2 separate regions of the Homo sapiens genome follow, and region 1 is linked to region 2. A link means that fine-mapping ties the variant in region 2 to the expression of a gene that starts in the linked region. Tissue or cell type: thyroid. Region 2 holds a variant in brackets; the other region holds the start of a gene. All regions are shown on one strand. Distances are between the middles of the regions.

Region 1 (8,000 bases), 36 kb after region 2:
TCTGGAGAAACCAGGGTCCCCCTCAGCCACCCCTGCCCCAGGGGGTGGTGCAGATGACCCCGTGTAGCTCGGGGCTTGGTGCCGCCCACGGCTTTGGCCCTGGGGTCTGGGGGCCCCGCTGGGGTGGAGGCCCAGGCAGAACCCTGCATGGACCCTGACTTGGGTCCCGTCGTGAGCAGAAAGGCCCGGGGAGGATGACGGCCCAGGCCCTGGTTCTCTGCCCAGCGAAGCAGGAGTAGCTGCCGGGCCCCACGAGCCTCCGTCCGTTCTGGTTCGGGTTTCTCCGAGTTTTGCTACCAGCCGAGGCTGTGCGGGCAACTGGGTCAGCCTCCCGTCAGGAGAGAAGCCGCGTCTGTGGGACGAAGACCGGGCACCCGCCAGAGAGGGGAAGGTACCAGGTTGCGTCCTTTCAGGCCCCGCGTTGTTACAGGACACTCGCTGGGGGCCCTGTGCCCTTGCCGGCGGCAGGTTGCAGCCACCGCGGCCCAATGTCACCTTCACTCACAGTCTGAGTTCTTGTCCGCCTGTCACGCCCTCACCACCCTCCCCTTCCAGCCACCACCCTTTCCGTTCCGCTCGGGCCTTCCCAGAAGCGTCCTGTGACTCTGGGAGAGGTGACACCTCACTAAGGGGCCGACCCCATGGAGTAACGCGCCCGGCCCCGATGCGAATCAGGCCTCCCCTACATCTGGGGGCGTTGGCCGCGAGATTCCCATTGACACCTTTGTTTCGTGTGCTTTTAAATTCAGGTTAAATGTTGCAATAATCTGATGCAGAAGACTCAGCTTCTCAAGGGAGAGGGAGGGGGCGGAGCGGAATAAATAGTAACTTATTTAAGAAATGCACTTGGATTCCTGCCATCAGTCAGGGGCGGGGAAGGGAGTACCATCCGCAGATGGGTGCAGCAGGCACTTGGCCAGCAGGACACAGGAGACTAGCAGAAGGAAGAGGCCGGGGAGGAAGAAGCCAGCCAGGAGGGGGAGCCTGGGGTACCCAGACTCTGAGCCCCCTGATGCTGTGATGTGGCGGCGGATCCAGTTCACGTAGGCAGGGACACGAGTGTAGACTCCCGGCCTGTTGGGGCGGCCGCAGCCCTCACCCCAGCTCACAGTGCCAGCCTGCACCCAGGCACCGTTCACCTGGCAGACCAGAGGCCCCCCGGAGTCGTCCTGAGGACAGAGAAGGCGAGCATTGGGAGCCGAGAAGATGGGGAGCCCCTCCCTGGGCTTCAGCCGCCCCCATCCTCTGTCACGGCCTGGCAGGCTCACCTGGCAGGCATCCCCGGGGCCCCGGGCACACAGCATGTCGGGCTGAAGGATGCTGCCCCCGGGGCCGGGATAGTCCCGGCGGCAGGTCTCTGTGTCCACCACGGAGACTTTCACCTCCCGCAGGCTGTACGGGGGTGGCAGAGGCTCTGGGGTGGGGGGAACAGGCTTCAGAGAAGGTTGGGGCACCAGGCCCTGCACTGGGGGGATGGGAGACCTTGCCAGACACAAGTCCCATGCCACCACGACCCTCGTCACGGCACGTGGGTTGTGATCTGACGTTTGGCTGCTGCTTTGGATCCACACGACAGGCTTTGAAAAGGGACAGCCGATAGGGGCGGCCTTGGCTGGGTGTGGAAGCCACCAGGAGCAGGTGGTAGCATCAGCATCCCTCAAGCCAGCTCTCTTCCTGCCGCCCTTGCCTTCCTCCATCCCAGCATCCCCACGGGGGCTCCTCACCTCCCTCCCGCGTATAGCCCCAGCCGGTCACCCAGCACCGGATCCCAGGGCAGAAGTCATCTGAGGCCTCCGGGAGGCAGACGGGCAGGATCCGGCTGGAGAGGGTCACGGGGACACTGAGCTCCACCAGGGCGATGTCCCCGCTGGTCCCCGGCTGTCCTGAGGGGCTGGAGTGCAGGATGATCTGCCTCACGGTGGAGAAGTGGGGAGACAGAGTGATCTCCAGTTCCCCCAGGTGCACCTGGTAGTCGGATGAGTTCAGGGACCTGGGAGGGAAGGTGGCTGGGTGAGAGGGGCCAGCTGCGGAGGCTGGAGGTCAGTGTCGGCCCCGCCCAGACCCTACCCTTGCAGGCATCCGAAGCCCAGCTCTTCCCTCCTAGGCTTGGGACGCAGAAAGCCTGGGCAGTGGCCTCACCCTGCAGGGCCCAAGGACCACGGCAGCACCTTGGGGTTCCTGCCAGCCCCTGGAAAAGCCAGCAGCATGCCCGACACCAGCAGGGGCTGGTCAGGAGGCAGATTGCAAGCTCAGCTCCACGTGAAGAGACCGAGGGGAGGGAAGGAGGGAGGGAGCTGTCCATCCCTAGAGGTGAGCAAAGAGCTGCAGAACCTCACAGAAGGTGGGCAACCAGCTCCTCCCTTTCCATTGGAAGGAAGTAGGCTCAGAGTTCCCAAGCCTCGGAGTGAGTCAAGACCAAGTGGAGGCCTCTGCGCTGGCGCATGCCCCACTGGGGCCTGGACATTGAGACTGCCCCTGCCCACCCGGACACTCACCCGGAGAAGCAGTGGGCAGCTGTGAGCACCCACTGGGGGCTGAGCAGTGACCCGCCGCACACGTGCACCCTCCGCAGGCGGAGGCTGGCCTGCCATGGCCATGCGCCGGCCGGGGCAGCGTGACCCCCCACGATCCGGCCGCCTGCATCCGAAACCTGCGGCCGGCCACACCCTAAGTCGAAGGAGGAAGGGGTGCCTGGTGGGGATCCCAAGAAACCCACTGCACTTCCTCCATGAAGCCTTCCCTGACCACACCTCCCTGCCTTCTTGGGGACTTTGCTCTTCAGCTCTCTCGTCTGCCAGACTCTCCCCAGAAGCATCGTGGGTGCAGCAGAAATGACGTCTCAGGAGCAGTGAGCGCGCCTGGGGCTCAGGTCGTCCTTTCTAAGCACCATGCTCCACAAACTAACCAGGGCTCCCGGAGGCGGTGGAAAGGCTGCAGAGGGCCCCTAGGCGGCTAGAAAGGGGCTCAGAACGGTGGAGCCCCCGAGAAGGCCCGGGGTGCTGGGGGTGGCTGCCTAGTGGGCCCCGGTTTTCCTTCAGGGGTGGTGGAGATATTCGAAGCTGGATAAAATTCGGGGGGCGGGGGGCAGACAGCACTGTCCAAGGTGCTCGGGGCCTCTGAATTGGACGCTTGATAATGTAACTTTATCTTCTGTAAACTTCACCTCAGTAAGTTAAGAAGAAATTAAGAGGAAGTCAGCTGGAGACCCACTGGCCACACCTGGGTCTGCCTGAGCTGGATAATTGTGCTGGTGATGGAGTGTGGCCACTGGGCTGAATGGAAGGGAAGCTGGGATGTAGACAGACAGAGATGTTTATAGATAGGCAGCGGGTGTGGGGTGGGGCACCGGCTCTCCCACACGGCAAAGCCCCCAGCTGGTTCCAGGGCCACGGTGGGGACGCTGTGGGGAGAAAGTTCGAGGAGGGCCAGGTTGTTTCATGGCCTCAGAGCATCTCCCAAGGTACAGACTGACTACAGTGGTGGTGGGGGAGACAGCCCTGCAGCACACCCCGACCAGCCCCACTCAACCGAGAGATGCGAGCAGAAACCACGGCGACAAACTATGACCTCCCCGGGCCCCCATTGGGACCCCAGGGAAGGAGAGGGTCACCGAGGCCCTCCTGCCAGGCCTTGCCTGCACCCTCCCCCACACCCCACACCTGTCAGAGACGTACCTGGCTGCAAAGTCCTGAGGGACACACCTGTGGGAAAGACGAAGGGCCCAGGATGGAGGGGGCTGCCAAGGAGAGGGGTGTGCGGGCTCCAGAGGCCCCTGCCAGGCCTCAGGGCGGCACTGGGGTGGGGCCTGGTCCTGAGCAGAGGGGCCCGGCCTGGTGAGGCTGGGTCAACTGCTGTCTCACTGGCCCAGGGCTGGGTGGGACAAGCCACAGGCCATAAACGGCAGCTGGAGGCCGGGAGCTTGGCCTCAGGCCTGGGCCTCCTCCCCGCCCTCCAGGTCCTGCTCAGGAAAGAAATCACCAGTGTTCTAGGGCCTGGGACTCCTGGCACCCCCAACTCCCACCCGCACCCCCAACTACCACCCGCCCTGCCAACTCCTGCACCCCCAACTCCCACCCGCACATCCCTCCTGCCTCTCCCCAGCACGGACAGCTGGGCCTCCAGCCAGGGGTGCAGTCTCTTCAGAGGAGACACGGGGCCCCACAGGGTGGGGACTCAGCATGTTTCTCCGTCTCAGACCAGCCCCCAGTTTCACCCCCATCAGGGGTCCAGGCAGGAAGCAGATGCCCCCCCATCCCCACACCCAGGCCAGGTCACCCACCGGGCACAGCCAGGAGCAGCAGGAGGCCACAGGCCCCAAGGGCCATGGTGTCTGCCCACTGTAGGGAGAAGGAGGGCCAGCCTGACCCTTGGACCTGCTGGGCGTGGGGGATAGGGGTGGCCACACACCTGCTGTCAGGCAGGGCGGGAGGACGGAGGAGGAGGCCGGAGCTCCACAGACGGCCCCACCTGTTCCTTCTGCACCTCAGAGAAGGGTCGTCACCTCCATTTATCCCTGTGTGGACGCCACAGCCCTGGCACCAAGTGGCCGGCTCCGTCAAGGGAAAGCGGGGAAGGACAGAAGGCAAAAGTACTTCTCACCTTGTCTCTGCTCCGGGGCCAGGGCTGAGGGAGGGGTGAGTGTTCCTCTGAGTGCCGCCCCCTCCAAAAATTACTCCCTGGTTCCCTCGGGGCACGCCACCCCCTCTCCTTCATCCTCTGGGAGCCCAGTCCTGGGGGTTCTTCAGGAGGGTCCCAACTCAAGGCCCAGCAGCCCTTTGGAGACAGCTCAGGCCCTCGTGACAACCACTCTTTGAGAAGTCCCTGTCCCCACGTCCGGCAGCAGGTCCTGTGCTCGTGCGGCAGATCAGATGGGCACCACTTCACGGCCCAGCCTGGGTTGGCCCTTCCTAACCGTCCTGGCTGCCCCAGCCTGATGACTCAGCTGATTAGGGGCCCTGGGCAGCGCCCGGGACTTTCCTGCCGCCCTCCCCAGATCCAAATCACAGGCCAGGCTGGAGGGTCCAGCTGAGACCTTCTAGGTCAGGGATCCCCTCTTTGATGTGGGGAAACTCAGCCACGGGTTGGGGGGAGTTGCCTGACCACCCACCAGGATGTGGCCTCCCAGGCACAGACGTGGCCGCCTGCACGCCAGCACGTGGGGTAGCCAAGGCTCAGAACTGGAGGTTCAGTGTTTTTCCTGGTGACCAATAAGGACAACACCAGCATGCGGGGCCAGCAGTGCACCCACGGCCGGGCACCCTCCTCCCTCACGGCAGCCGCACACCTGGAGGGGGCGCCTCAGGGGAGGCAGGACAGTCCCACCCCACACAAGGGAGCGGGGTCTGAGCCACGAGTCCCCGGCCCAGGGTGCCCCTAACAGGGCGATGTCACCCAGTGGGGAGGGAGCCTGAGGGGCAGGGTCTTCATGGAACCAGGTCCTCTAGTCCTGACCTCTAGGGCTGTCCCCAGGTCCCCACAGGTGGGGACTTCAGGGCCCTCACCTGTCCCAACTCAATTCACCTGCAGCACTGGGGACCCCGTCTTTCTGCCTGTGCCCCAGCACGCCACTCCCCGCAGAGTGCTCCACACGACCCAGATTGCAGGCCTGCTGGGGAGGAAGAAGCTTCAGGCACCATCCCCTGAGCCCCAGCAGTCCTGTGACATGGTGCCGTTCACCCCCACCATTGGACAGGAGAGCCAACTGAGGAACCGGGAGGGGGGCCTGGCCCTGGTGATTGCCCCCAGCTTGGTGGGGTCTCCTGTTGTCCAGGACCCTGGGAGACCTGGGATTGCTTCTGTCTGCGGTGGCCTGGCCACCTGGGTGCCGTCCCCTCGGTGGGAACCCTGTCCCCCCCACTCGCCCTCCGCCTCACACCCCCCTGTGACGGGGAACCAGGGCCTCCTGCCGGCAGCCACGTGGGTGACCTTGGAGCAGGTGCCCCCGTCCCAGTCAAAACGCAGGTGGCTGCAGCCCTGGCCAGCAGCCTGCCTGCCACGTCCTGAGAGACCCTTCCTGCTGAAGCTGACGCTCACATCTGCCAGTGTCACTGGGCTGAGCTTCACTGAGCTTCCCAGGGATCTTAGATCTAATTTGGGAAGCTCTGGGGCTGGAGCCCGCCCTCCCCCTCCACCCAGTGACCGGCCCCTGCTGTCCACCTTTCCTTACACCGGCAGCCCTGTCCTGAGGGGCCGTCTTGCTTCCCTTCGGGGTCTCATCCCTCCGACTCCCACCCCGCAAAACCTCCAGTGGGCGTGTGGAAGTGCTTCTAGGGGCTCAGTGTTCCCTGGGGGTCACCCCGTGCTGTCTCTGTGATCCCTAGAAGGTGGGATGGGCCAGAGGGAGGAAGAAGGGCCCGAGTTCCAGGTCCATCTTCATTAACAAGACGCTGGGCCTGCAGAACAGGAGCCGAGGGATGGGCCTTCAGGGGCTGCAGAGGCAGAGGTCACGTGGGGCTGGAGAGGGCACTGGGAGTTGAGTCCACCCCTTGTGAGGACAGAGGTCATTTGCAGAGATTCGGGAGACTAAATGCACATCTCTGCATCTAACAGTTGGAAGGAAAGAGTGAATGTTTCTTTAGAGAGTTGTTTTCAACCAGAACAGCCCCGCATTTCATTCCTGAGTGTAATCATGTTCAAATATAAAATGCAAACAAGAGCCCGGGATAAAATGCAACACTCGCCAGACGCAGAGGGCTCACCTATTGATGTAGAGAAAGACCTCAAAATGAATTTGAAAATGTCAAACTCAGGCCGGGTGCGGTGGCTCACGCCTGTCATCCCAGCACTTTGGGAGGCCGAGGCGGGCGGATCACTTGAGGTCAGGAGTTCGAGACCAGACTGGCCAACATGGCGAAACCCCATCTCTACTGAAAATACAAAAATTAACTGGGCGTGGTGGCTCACTCCTGTGGCCCAGCTATATGGGAGGCCAAGATGGGAGGATCGCTTGAGCCCAGGAGTTAAGGCTGCAGTGAGCCCTGATCACACCACTGCACTTCAGCCTGGATGACACAGCGAGATCCCGTCTCAAAGCAAACAACTAGGCAAAGCACAAGCAGTGGACGGAGGGGCCGGGAGAAGAGCTCGTGGGAAGCGTGGGGTAGGGGCTCGTGATGGGCAGCCCTGGGGCTCCCGGTGACCATTCTCTGTCTTGACCCGGTTGCAGGGACCTGGCTGTCCTTTATAATCAACTGAGTTGCCCGAGTGGCTCTGTGTGACCCGAATGCTGGATGCATCGTGTGGGGAGAAGCCAGCCTCGGGGACCAGGGCTGCCCAGGAGGCCCCGTCCCACGGTGACTGGCTGTGCCTTGAGGGCTAGGACCTCACACTGTGGCAGGTGTCCTCAGCACACCTGGACCCCTTCTCTCCCAGTGACATCCACAACCAGAAACACAGCGATGCACACCAGTGATTTCCATGCACTTTAATGAGGTCCAGCACTCAGGAGGATTAGCGCCCACCACCAGCTGCCTGGGCAGGGGAGGGCCGGAGGGCCCGGTGCAGGCGTCAGGCTTAGGACAGGGAAGGGGGCTCAGGATGGGGAAGGGTCCTCAGGACAGGGGAAGGGGCTCAGAAGAGAGCAGGGGGCTTAGGACAGGAAGGGGCACTCAGGACGGGGCAGGGAAGGTGTGGGGGGCAGTCGCCACCTGGGTAGGAAGCAGTGGTGTTTTGAACAGGAGGGGCTGGCTCTCCAGTGACCCAGGTGGACACCCCAGGCCTGACTCACGGCTTTTTGGGGACATAGTGGTGGATCCAGTCCAAGTAGTAGGTGACACGGGTGTAGATGCCAGGCCGGTTGGGCTGGGCACAGCCCTCGCCCCAGCTGACCACGCCCGCCTGCAGCCAGGTGCCATTCACCTTGCACACCAGGGGCCCTCCGGAGTCGCCCTGGGAAGGTCAGAGGTCAGCGCTCGCCGAACAGGCCTGGGAGTGGGGGTTGGGGGGCGGGGGGCGGGGGACAGGCGGGGCCCACCTGGCATGAGTCCCTCCGGGTGTTCCCG
Region 2 (8,000 bases):
CCGGCCTGGGCTGCTCGTTTCCCGGCCCTCACCCTCATCCTCTGTGAGCCTGGGAGGAGGCACGGATGCCGCATCAGCCTCCAGGCATCCCTGCCCTCTCGTAGGCATCCAGGCCCCCTGGTGGAAGGCAGGTCTCAAGGGGCTGGAGGGTGCCAGGAGTTGTCACGTGGCCGGGTGGGTCTGGGGCATGTGAGGGCCTTCTGCTCAGCGAGAGTGGAGGCCACGTGGCAGGAGGAGGAGACACCCCCACCAACCTATGCCTGCCCATGTGCCGGGTCTCAATTCCTGGTCCAAAGGGCGCCTTCAGTGGCGACTGCAGACAGGTGCGGGGCTCCAGCGAAGGGAAGCTGCCATTTAAAGGCAAAGCTGGGAACGCAGGCTGTGGTGATGACTGAAGTGAGGTTCACGTACCATGGGATTAGCCATTTTTTTTTTACTTGTTTATGTGACGACCAGCGGATTTTAAAGCGCACGGGTTAGCGACCTTCGTGTTGTTGAACCATCACCTCTGCCTAGTTCTGGAATGTTTCCCTCACTCCAGAAGGAAACCGCATCCCCATCAGCCCTCGCTGCCCAGCCCTGGTGGTCTCTACCCCGCTTTGTCTCTGGGTTTGCCTGTGCGGGACTTTCCGTGTGACATGTGGTCCTTCTGTGCCCAGTTCTTCCCAGCATCATGTTCCCGGGTTCACCTGTGTTGTGGCGTGTGGAGCTTTCTTCCTTTTCATGGCTGAGTAATATTCCAGCGTGTGACCAGACCACGTTCCGTTTGTTCACGGGTCTGTTGGTGAACACCAGGGCTGTTTCCATCACAGGCCATCGGGGTCAGTGCCGCTGTGGACACGTGTGGGCCCGTCTGTCGTGAGTGCCCGTTTCCTTTGTCCCTGGTGTAGGCAGGATTGGCGTTCATAGCCTCACCCACCGGTTATCCGGAGCTTAGACGTGCCCGGGTGGCAGCTGGACTCCTGGACGGTGTCTGTGGGTCCTGCCAGCGGCAGCCAGACTCCCACATGGACGCTGCCATCTGCAGAGTCCCCCCCCCCGCCGAGTCTGCTTTTCTGGGGAACCCTGGAGATGCTCAGAAAGCCTAGTGGGGCACGGGGGTCCATGGCGGGTGAGTAGACGGTCAGCGTGCGTAGGGGCCGGAGGCGGGGTACGTGGGGGGCGGGCGAGTAGACGGTCGGCATGCATAGGGGCCGGAGGCGGGGTGTGTACGGGGCGGGTGAGTAGACGGTCGGCGTGCGTAGGGGCCGGAGGCGGGGTGTGTACGTGGGCAGGTGAGTAGACGGTCGGCGTGCGTAGGGGCCGGAGGCGGGGTGTGTATGGGGCGGGTGAGTAGACGGTCGGCGTGCGTAGGGGCCGGAGGCGGGGCTGTGTACGGGGCGGGTGAGTAGACGGCGTAGGGGCCGGAGGCGGGGTGTGTACGGGGCGGGTGAGTAGACGGCGTAGGGGCCGGAGGCGGGGTGTGTACGGGGCGGGTGAGTAGACGGCGTGCGTAGGGGCCGGAGGCGGGGTGTGTACGGGGCAGGTGAGTAGACGGCGTGCGTAGGGGCCGGAGGCGGGGTGTGTACGGGGCGGGTGAGTAGACGGCGTAGGGGCCGGAGGCGGGGTGTGTACGGGGCAGGTGAGTAGACGGCGTGCGTAGGGGCCGGAGGCGGGGTGTGTACGGGGCGGGTGACTAGACGGTCGGCGTGCGTAGGGGCCGGAGGCGGGGTGTGTGCAGGGCCAGGGTGTACCGTGCTGGTCCTCCCAGGGCTGCTTGGGGAGAGCCTGTTTCCTTAGTGGTGTTTTGAATAAGAATGCGCGGCTCCCTCGAGGTGTCCCAGTGGGGCTGTTCAGAAGCTGGGCCCAGGGAGCCCTGAAGGCAGGGGTCCAGCCTGCCGTGACCGCACAGGCCCAGATTCCTGGACGTTTCGCTTTCGTAATTGCACACGCAGGGCCTGGATTCGCCGTGCAGAAAGCCGGACGATGCCGCGGCGTGGGGTGAACGTCAAAGGGTCACTGTGGACTCTGCCCACGTCCTGAGTGCCCTCGTCTTGTCCCTCTCCACGGCGTTCTCATCCTCCGGCGATTCCCTGGGAACGTCTCTGTACCTCTGCACACGTGCCCACACACATGCCCCTCGAGATGGCCTGCACTGTGGCTTCTGTCGTGAATGTGGTCACGTGTCCTCCGTGACTCGCTCCTCCTGCCCCGTGTGCCCTGGACCTGGCTCGGTCCCGATGCCCGTGGCACCACCGCCTCCTCAACGGGTGGCCACGTAATGCTTCCTGGCCGGTGAATGTGCCACGGCAGTGGAGATATTCTGCCCTTCTAGCTCTTCTGTATACAAGCAGTGCGCCCTGGTTCTCAGGGCCGTGACCACCACCATGACCGGCAGACTTCAGGGCGGTCCGTCCCACTCCCGTGGCCTCGAGGGTCCTTTGGAGCTGCCGCGGTTCTGAGTGGGGGTGGACACGGACACAGGGCTGGTTCCCGGGGATCTCCTGTACCACCCACTGACTCCCAGGGTCTGCGGCTGGCCCGGCCCCTCCTGGGTCTCTTGATGTGGGACCAAAGCTGTTGCTTCCTCTGCGGCAGAGGCGATGGAGTCCCTCAGAGCCCGCGACCGTCCCCTCCGCACTGCGGGCTGATAGCGCCTGTGGGAATGGGCTTCCCCGGTGAATACACATAGGTCGTCTTCTTGAGCAAATTGGAAAAGTAAGGTTGAGCGTTCCTGAGAATGAGGGGCCGGGAGGGGAGGAGGCGGCCAGCGCCGCGTGGGGCCGTGGGCAGAGCGGACAGGGAGGGAGCGGCCTCAGCCTTGGCACCCTCTACCCAGGGCAGGGAGGGGTTTGCCCAGCCAGGGGTGGGTACAGAGAGGGGAGCACGTGGCTAAGAGTCCTGGTTGCCTGTGACCTCAGCTGCAGTCTGTGCCCTGCAAGGCATGGGGTCCTGAGTGGGGGGCTGTGGCCCACCTTGCTCTGGGCTTCTCCTTCCTGCTGTGGGTGCCTTTCCCGCCCACACCCCTGCCCCTGGCTCAGGCCGCTTGTGCCCAGCTGTTGCAGATTTGGCCTAATGGGGCTCAGCTGGCTGAGCAGATTGCTCTAGGGGACAGCGGGTGGGGCAGGAACGGCCCAGCCTCCCGATCCTCCCAGCTGCAGAGCTCTGCCACCCCGGCACTGATGTCAGGATGCAGCCGAGCAGGGAGCCCTGCTGGGATCCCTGGAGGCCACAGCCCTGCTTGGGGGCCACTCTGACCATAGAGGAGGAGCCAGGCAGCAGCCGCACCTGGAGACGTCCATCCCTTCGCTGGGCTAGCGCTGCTACAGTCCCCTCCCTGGTGGTCTGAGGAGCTGAGGCTGGCCTGTGGCTTTGATGCCTTAACTATCTCTTGAGGAGGGGCACACAGCCCCGCCTCCGTCCCTCTGTAGAAACATCTGTCCTGACCTTCCTTCGGCAAACGTGGAGGTCTTGGTGTGGTGAGAACGTGTCCTCCAGGGCCAGCAGGAGCCAGGCCGAGCCGTGTCAGTCAGGAGAGTAGATGGAGGGGCTTGTTTTGCAGGAAGGTCTGCATAAAACCTGTCAGCGCCAGAAAGATGAAATAGCCCTTTTGTACAGATGGGGAAGCTGAGGCTTAGAAAGGGGGAGGCACAGGTGGAGGTAGAATTGGGGTCAGGCTCTTGCCCCATGGCCCTGGCCTGAGGATTAGTCACGGGGCAGGGTCGGGGAGGCCCTGGCCCCAGGATACGTGAGCCAGCGGGTCTGGGCGGTCCTGGGAGCTGATGTTACCTGGGATGTTAGCTGATGTTTCGGGTTGGGGTTGTCCAGGACCACCCTTTGGGCCACGCTGGTCCCACAGCACACGGGCTTCTGAGGAACCCCTGTCCCTACCCAGGACCCTGGAGACCGCTGGCTCTGGGGAGAGGGGTCCCACAGCACCTCAGGGCTCAGTCGGCACTGTTTGGGGGTCTGGCAGCCCCGACACTGGCTGAGCCGCCCTGAGACTGGCTCCTGGCCCCAAGAATCCCAGGTCTCCAGCATCTTCGGCGCAGAGATAGCAGCTGCCAGGGTTCCCGCCACTCGCAGACACTCCCCCTCACCCAGCCGCGGGAATGCAGGCCTTGCTGCCCCCCACACAACAGTCAGTGGCTCTGGGGCTGCCCACGCCCGCGCCCAGGGGCCGGGAGAAAACGGCGCCTTCAGAGCTATGCGCTTTCAAGCTGGGAAGAGCAGTTTGGGAGTCTTTTTCCTCCTCGACTACCCCCAGATGAGAAAACGGGGGTCAGTGGAGCAGCTCCACTGAAGCTCTGTGTTTCCGGCCAGGAGGCCGCTTCCTCGCCCCCTCCTGGATGTGTCCCCCCACACCTAACCCCGGCCCTCCCAGCCCTGGTACATCCAGGACAGGCCCAGGCGAGGCTGCTGAT[T/G]CAGCACCATGGACAGCAGCCGCTGCAGCACTGCCCGCCCTGCGTCCACACCTCCTGGCCCGCCAGGGGCTGGCATCTGCGGTGCACTGGAGCTGGGCCCCTTGGAGGGCCCCCCCAGGTCCTGAGAGCTGAGGGGCTTCTGTGGACCTTGGTGTGAGCCACCATGGCCACAGGCGGTGCCCATGTGGGAAGGGGAGCGCTTACTGCCGCAGAAAGGAGGCTGGGGGGCTGCCTTTGTTCCAGGGTCCCGAGGGAAGTGGCGGTGTGCAACAGGAAGCCTGTAGGGGTGAGAAAAGCTGTTCTCCTCCCGGAGACTGAGGAGCTGGTGTCCCTGAAGCGTCCTGGGCGGGACTGGTTTTCTTCATGGGTGCCAGCTGGGGAGGCCCAGCCCCTGGCAGGGCTTCAGGAGTAGGAAGGGGGCTTAGCACCTGCCCAGCCCCTCAGAAGTGCACAGGCTTGGAGATGTGAGGAAGGGGAGGTGGCCAGGCTGTGCTGGACCTGGCAGGTGCCCTGAAGAGTGTCCTTTTTTTTTTTTTTTTTTTTTTTTTTTTTTTTTTTTTGATATGGGGTCTTGCTCCGTCACCCAGCCTGGAGTGCAGTGGCACGATCGTGGCTCACTGTAGCTTCCACCTCCTGGGGTCAAGCGATCCTCCCACTTCAGCCTCCCCGAGTAGCTGCCACCGCACCCCAAAATTTAATTTTTTTGTTAAATATTTGTTAAATATTTTGTAGCAATGGGGTCTCACTGTGTTGCCCAGGCTGGTCTCAGACTCCTGGGTTCCAAATGATCCTCCTGCCTCAGCCTCCCAAAGTGCTGGGATTATGGGTGTGAACCACCGGGCCCAGCCTGAGAGCACTGATTATAGAGTGTGGGGCTGAGGGACAGGATGGGTACTGTGCCTGAGGAGTATTTCAACAGACAGGGCCCCACCACCGAGGGGGTCTTCAGCCCTGTTCCCCTGTTCAGGCCTCTCTCTGGGGGGTTTTCATCGTTACGAGCCCCTGGCTCGTGAGCCCAGTCCAGTGGGGGCTGCCTGGGGAACATGTCATCCAGGCCAGACTCCAGGGGCTGGAGAAGGACAATGTGGTCCCCACAACCTTGGTCTGTCAGAAAAGAGGAGAATCACTGAGGTCCTGGGGCTTGGTCCAGGGAGATGAAGGAGGGAGGGTGAGTGGGTGCATTGCTGCTGGTTGGGCCTCAGGGTCTGGTGGAGGCTCCCTGCCTGAGGGAGACCCCGTAGCCAAGACCACCTCACTGCGCCACTGCCCGGCCCTTCCCTGGCTGGGTTCCCTGACCGTTCTGCCGCCCTGCAGCCAGCAGGCCCCCTCCCAGGGCTGTTCCCGGCTACGTTGGCCTGCTTCTCCGACCCGCAGTGGAAATTGATTCTAATTTATAGAAGTTGATTTGAAATCTAAAGGAATTTTTAATTAAAACCCAGAAAATCCATCTGTATGATTAAGCCTCCAGAAGTCACCAGGCTCCGTGCGACACAGCCGGCAGACACTGCCTGTCCTCAGCTGCCCACAGAAGTGTGACACATGAGGGCCAGCCTGCTCAGCCCAGAGCTGCCCGAGCCCCTGCTGGCCTGTGCGGGATGTGGGACCTCGGCTGACTGCTCCCCTCTCTAGGCAGAGCCCCAGGGGGGCACTGGGACCTGGTACATCTGGCAGTCCCTCTCCAGGGCAGGGAGGGCTGGTGGCTGGGGTGTGACCCGGTTGGGAGGCGCGCAATACGCCTGCCTGTCACGTCCTCTGTCGTGAGAGGCCTCCTTGGGGCCCCCCAGACCCTGCTATACCACCGTCCCCTCCAGAGCTGCCCCACAGGCACAGGGGTGGGGTCCTTGCCATTGGAGGAGCTCTCTGGGATTGTGGGGCTAATTTTGGGTGGGTGCTGGGGGAAGGGGAGGCAGAGGATCTACGATGGGTAGGGGCCCTGCAGACCCAAGAGCTGGGACCCGTCAGGCTGGCCTGGCTGTGTGGCCTCAGGCACACTCGGGGTCTCTCTGACCCAGCAGGCTGGCCTGGCTGTGTGGCCTCAGGCACACTCGGGGTTTCGCTGACCCAGCATGCTGGCCTGGTTGTGTGGCCTCAGGCACACTCGGGGTTTCGGTGACCCAGCAGGCTGCCCTGGCTGTGTGGCCTCAGGCACACTCGGGGTCTCTGACCCAGCAGGCTGGCCTGGCTGTGTGGCCTCAGGCACACTCGGGGTCTCTCTGACTCAGCAGGCTGGCCTGGCTGTGTGGCCTCAGGCACACTCGGGGTCTCTCTGACTCAGCAGGCTGGCCTGGCTGTGTGGCCTCAGGCACACTCGGGGTCTCTCTTACTCAGCAGGCTGGCCTGGCTGTGTGGCCTCAGGCACACTCGGGGTCTCTGACCCAGCAGGCTGGCCTGGCTGTGTGGCCTCAGGCACACTCGGGGTCTCTCTTACTCAGCAGGCTGGCCTGGCTGTGTGGCCTCCGGCACACTCGGGGTCTCTGACCCAGCAGGCTGGCCTGGCTGTGTGGCCTCAGGCACACTCGGGGTTTCGGTGACCCAGCAGGCTGGCCTGGCTGTGTGGCCTCAGGCACACTCAGGGTTTTGGTGACCCAGCAGGCTGGCCTGGCTGTGTGGCCTCAGGCACACTTGGGGTCTCTGACCCAGTAGGCTGGCCTGGCTGTGTGGCCTCAGGCACACTCGGGGTCTCTGACCCAGCAGGCTGGCCTGGCTGTGTGGCCTCAGGCACACTCGGGGTTTCGGTGACCCAGCAGGCTGGCCTGGTTGTGTGGCCTCAGGCACACTCAGGGTTTTGGTGACCCAGCAGGCTGGCCTGGCTGTGTGGCCTCAGGCACACTCGGGGTCTCTGACCCAGTAGGCTGGCCTGGCTGTGTGGCCTCAGGCACACTCGGGGTCTCTGACCCAGCAGGCTGGCCTGGCTGTGTGGCCTCAGGCACACTCGGGGTTTCGGTGACCCAGCAGGCTGGCCTGGTTGTGTGGCCTCAGGCACACTCAGGGTTTTGGTGACCCAGCAGGCTGGCCTGGCTGTGTGACCTCAGGCACACTCGGGGTCTCTGCGAGCCGTCACCTGTGCAGCACCGCAGGTCCGGGAGATTTGGGGTTCCATTGTCGCCAGGCTTAGCTCGGGAGGCCGTCTGCAGCTGGCGTGCCTGCAGGCCCAACCTTGCCCCTCTATGGTCTTCTGCTGTGTGTGTGATTTTGGCGGAGGGGGATGCACCTGGATGGGAGGGGCTCACTGGAGCCACACCCCTGCTTGGAAAAGACAGCACCCCATCCCCCACTAAACCAGACGGTCCGAGAGGTCGGGGAGGGGCACCCAGGCCCCCTCCTGGCTTCCCTCGCTGCCAGTCACAAAGGCTTGGGGTGGGTCTCAGTGGCATGGCAGAGGGGGCAAAGGTGTCCAGGTAGGACCCTGGCCTGGGGACCCCTAGTCAGCTGTCTTTGAGGAGTTGCTAGGCACTGGGTGCCACCCACCCCTGCCAGCCCCTCTGCCGTGGGCAGCTTTCATGGTGACTGGCACTGATGGGCCCTGGGCTCTGACACCATCCACTCCACTCTGCTGGCTGGACAGTCTTAGAGATGGCTGGTCAGGGGTGCTGGCCC

What was found. PIP is the estimated chance that this variant, and not a neighbour inherited with it, causes the effect.
Region 1: it holds the start of TPSG1, and the variant in region 2 is fine-mapped to the expression of TPSG1 in thyroid (GTEx, PIP above 0.99).

Annotation. Positions count from the first base shown.
Region 1 is chr16:1,220,928-1,228,927 of GRCh38, forward strand. TPSG1 (tryptase gamma 1) reads right to left here and starts at 4,341. Exons shown (of 6, transcript NM_012467.4): 1 at 4,280-4,341; 2 at 3,675-3,701; 3 at 2,496-2,667; 4 at 1,725-1,990; 5 at 1,269-1,414; 6 at 724-1,169. The coding sequence starts at 4,325. The coding sequence ends at 861. CACNA1H (calcium voltage-gated channel subunit alpha1 H) reads left to right here. Exons shown (of 35, transcript NM_021098.3): 35 at 1-841. The coding sequence ends at 67. It overlaps TPSB2 (tryptase beta 2), which reads right to left. Exons shown (of 6, transcript NM_024164.6): 5 at 7,973-8,000; 6 at 7,409-7,887. The coding sequence ends at 7,723. LOC124903621 reads left to right here and starts at 4,324. Exons shown (of 2, transcript XM_047434997.1): 1 at 4,324-4,634; 2 at 5,527-6,313. The coding sequence starts at 4,324. The coding sequence ends at 6,313. RefSeq lists a silencer at 3,193-3,379.
Region 2 is chr16:1,184,472-1,192,471 of GRCh38, forward strand. The region is part of intron 2 of CACNA1H (calcium voltage-gated channel subunit alpha1 H); the gene reads left to right. Among named protein-coding and RNA genes, the nearest start is that of CACNA1H, 35 kb to the left of the region's middle. The variant T/G (reference allele first, on the strand shown) is at 4,404.